2 separate regions of the Homo sapiens genome follow, and region 2 is linked to region 1. Evidence: fine-mapped expression QTL. Tissue or cell type: whole blood. Region 1 holds a variant in brackets; the other region holds the start of a gene. All regions are shown on one strand. Distances are from middle to middle.

Region 1 (2,751 bases):
CAGCTTCCTGAGTAGCTGGGACTACAGATGTGCACCAACACACCTGAATGTTTTGTTTGGTTGTTTTTTTTTTTTTTTGGTAGAGACAGGGTCTCATCATGTTGCACAGGTTGGTCTCGAACTCGGGCTCAAGCAATCTTCCCACCTGGGCCTCTCAAAGTGCTGGGATTACACATGTGAGCCACCATGCCCTGGCCTTATTCACTTTTTTTCTTTTCTTTTTTTTTTTTTTTAAAAGGAGTCTCGCTCTGTCGCCCAGGCTGGAGTACAGTGGTGCGATCTCGGCTCACTGCAACCTCCGCCTCCTGGGTTCAAGAGATTGTCCTGCCTCAGCCTCCCAAGAAGCTGGGATTATAGGCACATGCCGCCACGCTCAACTAATTTTTTTTCTTTTTTCTTTTTTTTTTTTTTTGTTTTTTTGAGACGGAGTCTCACTCTGCTGCCCAGGCTGGAGTGCAGTGGTGCGATCTCAGCTCACTGCAACCTCCACCTCCCGGGTTCAAGTGATTCTCCTGCCTCAGCCTCCTGAGTAGCTGGGATTACAGGTGCACGCCACCACACCCGGCTAATTTTTGTATTTTTAGTAGAGACGGGGTTTCACCATGTTGGTCATGCTGGTCTCAAACTACTGACCTCATGATCCACTTGCTTTGGCCTCCCAAAGTGCTGGGATTACAGGTGTGAGCCAGCGTGCCTGACTTAATTTTTATATTTTTTAGTAGAGATGGGGTTTCACCCTGTTGGCCAGGCTGGTCTCGAACTCCTGACCTCAGGTAATCCGCCCACCTCAGCCTCCCAAAGTGCTGGGATTACAGGCATGAGCCACCCACACCCGCCCTTTGTTCACTTTTAAAGGGGTGATTTTGTGGCATGTAAATTTCACTTCAAGAATGAAAAATAGGCTGGGTGCGGTGGCTCACGCCTTTAATCCTGGCACTTTGGGAGGCCAAGGTGGACGGATCACCTGAGGTCAGGAGTTTTTTGTTTTTTTTTTTTTTGAGACGGAGTCTGGCTCTGTCGCCCAGGCTGGAGTGCAGTGGCGCGATCTCGGCTCACTGCAAGCTCCGCCTCCCAGGTTCATGCCATTCTCCTGCCTCAGCCTCCCGGTAGCTGGGACTACAGGCGCCCGCCAGCACACCCGGTTATTTTTTTGTATTTTCAGTAGAGACAGTGTTTCACAGTGTTAGCCAGGATGGTCTCGATCTCCTGACCTCGTGATCCGCCCACCTCAGCCTCCCAAAGTGCTGGGATTACAGGCGTGAGCCACTGCGCCTGGCCAGGAGTTTTTGAGACCAGCCTGGCCAACAGGCTGAAACTCTGTCTCTACTAAAAATACAAAAACTAGCTGGGCATGGTGGCGGGCACCTGTAATCCCAGCTACATCGGAGGCTGAGGCAGGAGAATTGCTTGAACCTGGGAGGCGGAGGTTGCAGTGAGCTGAGACTGCGCCATTGCACTCCAGCCTGGGCAACAAGAGTGAAACTGCGTCTCAAAAACCAAAACAACAAACAAAAAAAGAATGAAAAATAAGCTGGGCATGGTGGCTCATGCCTATAATCCCAGCACTTTGGGAGGCTGAGATGGGCAGATCACCTGAGGTCAGGAGTTTTTGAGACCAGCCTGGCCAACAGGATGTAAACCCGTCTCTACTAAAAATACAAAAATAAGCTGGGCGTCGTGGCAGG[T/C]GCCCGTAATCCCAGCTACTCGGGAGGCTGAGGCAGGAGAATTGCTTGAACCTGGGGGGGCAGAGGTTGCAGTGAGCTGAGATCGCACCACTGCACTCCAGCCTGAGCAACAGTGAGACTCTGTCTCAAAAAAAAATAAATAAATAAAAAATAAAAAGAATGGTACCAGTAGCTAAGAGTGGACAAGTGCTAAAGAGGTAGGGGTGGTAACAGGAGGGGCTGAGGGCTGGGAGAGGGGAAGACTTGGCAGAAACAGGTAAGGTTTAGGTGGTGGAAAGGTTTGAGGGAAGGTCCCAGGCTGCAGGTGAAGGTAGTCTGGAGGAAGCTGACTTTGATCCCTTGGCCAGCAGGGGAGAAGCAGAAGGAGCGGGATTCAAGGAAGGCCCTTGCAGCCTCTGGGCTGTTTGCTTCCTCTCTGACTGGAAGGTCCTGGTTAGGGGGTAGGGCCTGCATCCTTTGAGCTGTTTCACTTTCAAAGTGGCATCACAGGTGGATGGTTCTTTTAAAAACCCTGGCACCAATGGAATGAAATGGAACACGTAGGCAGCAGGAAGATTCGCCGCCGCCCACACCAGGGAAGTGAGGCCGGCACTGGGCTGCATGTGTGCCACCTCCAGGCGGCCAGGAGACTCCCCAGGGCAGAGAGGGCCTGCCCAGCACCCATGGCAGCTTCAGCACTTGCAGAGGGCAGCACCCCCTGGGGCCTGGGGTGGGGGAAGGGATTGGGTGAGCACCATGGGCTCCTTTGTCAGACCCAGGAAGGAGAGTGGGGGCAGCTACCGGAAGTAGGGGGATGAGAAGCTCCCTCCGGAATGTATGCCCCCCTCTCCCCTCCCCTCTCCTCCCCTCCCCACATGCACAGCCCCTGCACATGCTCAGTGTGCCCATGAATTGGGTTGGTTGGGGGAGGGCACTGACTGGCACCCCCACTTAAAGGGCCAGTGCCACACTTGCCTGTTCCCAACAAGGGCAATGGGACCTGGCCACCTTTCCCCCCAATACCGTTACTTCCCTTTGGACCCCCTCCCCCCACTCCCTGGCAGCTTCTTCCTGCCCCAGCCCACCA
Region 2 (2,625 bases), 26 kb after region 1:
CTGCGGCAGGAGCCCCCAACTTACTGGCCTCGGAGTCATGACAAGGCTGGGCGAGCAGCTCGGCCTCGGGCGTCGGTTCCACTTCTGCCGGCGGCGGGAAGTCGCCGCCAGCGGACGAGTCGTCCCCATTCTGGCCCTTCTCGCCCTCTCTCAGGCAGCTAGATTCTGGACAGGCCTGGGTCTGCAAGGGAGGTGGTTGGGATTCCAGGCTCCCTTCCCCCTCCGGCCCCGGACGGCCACCCAACTGGGGGAACGCTCTCGATTGCCACCTACTGTCCTCCTCGGGCACCCGCTCCTCCGCGCCTGGGGGGCGCTCAGGGTTCAGCTCTTCCTGGACAGCAGCAGCACCTGTACAGTTGCTAGTTTGAGGCTGGTGTTGATATTCTGACAAGAATGGCTCGGCCATGGCTAGTAGAGTCCTCGAAGTTTAAGAAATTTTGGCTAGTAAGTCCTTAAGGAAAAAAATGGGTTTTTCTTAAAAAAAAGAAAAAGAAAAAAAAAACAGTCCAACAGAGTCCTCTTCAGTTTGTAATTCCTGCAGTGACGCCTTTAGCTAGTCCTTCTATCAGCAAACTCCAACTGCAATCTGGGGAGCTCAAGTCAGTAAAGGGTTAAGCGCCCACAGTGCGGCCAGCTAGCGGGTCCAAGGGGGTGCAGCGGCAGGAACAGTACGTAATGGGCGGAGGTGGGCCTCAAACCTCCAAGCGGAGCACCCCAATAAAGGAGTTGGTGAGCAAGGTGATGAGGGTAAGTCCAGTGCGTGAAACCCAGCCCCGAAGGGGTTAAAACTACCGATGACGCTGCCTCCGAGGGGCCAGATCCACAAAGGGTTAAATCCCCTGCCGCAGAGCCCACAAGGGGTTAAAGTCCCGGCGCCACCTCCTCCCACTTCCACGGGTGTCGCTTCCACCCAAGCTCCCAGTTCCCTAGGCCCGGCCGTAGCCTCAGCAGAGGACAGACAAACTCATCTCCCCTTTGGCTCGATGCTCTGCTCTGCTCAGTTCTCCTCCGCCTCCTCCTCTTTTCCTCCCTCCCTCCTCCCCCTTCCCACAGCTCCTCTTCCGCGTCCTCCCCCGACTTTCCCTCCCAACCTGCCTCTCCACCTGCCAACTTCCAACTGCTGTCTCCCAGTCCTCTGCGCCCCTTTTATATAGAAGCTTTTTCGCCCCGCCCGTGCGCATGCGTAACGGAGTTCCCTTTGCGGGGCGCCGGGAGTCGTAGTTCTTATCTTTCGGGCCCGCCGCCCTCGCGCGCCGTGCGACGTAGCCAATCCCAGGACGCGTAGGGGGCGTCTCCCTGGCCGCCACCTTCCATCGCTTAGACCTCGCTAAAGAAACGCGAGCGGCCATTGGTGAAAAATCACACGACTCGCTGAGGAAGGACGGCCAATCGCAGAGAAGATGGGGCGGGTTCTGGACCGTACCATTCTGTTTCAGGAATACGAGAAGATTCGATGGCCTATGAGAGTCCTCACAGAATATTTTTATGAAAAGGTGCGTTATAAAGGCTATTATCGTATTTTGTTCTCAGCGGAGGGGTTCCGAAGGTTATGAACCTTTATTAACTAACGCAAGAATGGTTTATTCCTAAAAAGTAGTCCCTAAAATGTAAAAGAATTAAATCCTATAAAGAGAGACGTCGGCCCACGGCTGCTAACTCGCGAGTCTTAAGATTATAGAAATGGCTTCAAGGCGGGTGGTGAGTGCCTGAGACTGACACTTGCGGAAGGATATCGCGAGCACATTTTGTAAAGACCGAAGAGCGCATGAAGAAGTAAACAAATGAAGAATAAAAAGTGCCGCCTTAAAGGGACAGTGTGACTGCGTTTAGCGCCGCAGGCTCGCACTAGGCCTCGGAAGACGAAGAGGCGGGTTCGAGTCCCGGTGACGCGACTCCCGGACTGACCTCGGTACCCTTAGCTGAAGGTGGCGGAGTCCCAGCCCCAGCCTGGTCTCAGAAAGCCGCCCCCGCCCCAGGGGCAAATGCAAACTGGTGATTCGCGACCAAGGCTCTTCCCTGGGCCGAGATCGGAAAGCCGGGGCCGGGGGCGGGCGGGGGAGTGGAGGGGGAAGCGGGGGAAGGCCACGCCCCCACGCCTCAGCTTCTGTCGAAGAAAATGGCCTCCTGGGGCCGATTTGGTCTTTTCACTTCCGACCGAGATCATTTCCTGAGCCGGGACAGAGGAGGTCCGGGACAGCCATGAGGCTGTTTGTTGGGAAGAGTTCGGAATGATTAATGAGTTGAAATCATCAGCCCTGGCTATCCGAGAGGGAAGCAGGTCTCACCCGCAGAGGCCCTTCCTCATCAGTGGGCGCTGGGCAAGACTGGGAGGGAAGCATGGAGGAGGCCTTGCTCCGAAACTTGCTGCAGGGGATTCTGGCGCAGGGCTGGGGGGGCCGATTCCCCCGGGGGCGTAGTTTCTCAGAGAGAAATTCTCTAGACCCAAGCCCCCAGCCCTCCATAAACAGGGACTGAGAGGACCCAGAGAACCCTCCATACCAGTCACTGAGGCCTAAAATCTTGGCGCCCTTTCCACTTCTCCTTCGCCACACACCCAGTGACCCTTTCTTCTTATTGCTTCCTTAATAGCATCCCTGACATTCCAGCACGTTTGCACTGTGTACC

What was found. PIP is the estimated chance that this variant, and not a neighbour inherited with it, causes the effect.
Region 2: it holds the start of HEXIM1, and the variant in region 1 is fine-mapped to the expression of HEXIM1 in whole blood (INTERVAL, PIP 0.92).

What each region holds. Positions count from the first base shown.
Region 1 is chr17:45,172,501-45,175,251 of GRCh38, reverse strand. No RefSeq gene overlaps it. Among named protein-coding and RNA genes, the nearest start is that of HEXIM2-AS2, 2.4 kb to the right of the region's middle. RefSeq lists enhancers at 1,042-1,999, 2,000-2,751. The variant T/C (reference allele first, on the strand shown) is at 1,686.
Region 2 is chr17:45,146,972-45,149,596 of GRCh38, reverse strand. It overlaps HEXIM1 (HEXIM P-TEFb complex subunit 1), which reads right to left and starts at 1,122. Exons shown (of 1, transcript NM_006460.3): 1 at 1-1,122. The coding sequence starts at 406. RefSeq lists enhancers at 1-19, 424-533, 584-633, 684-733, 1,137-2,019.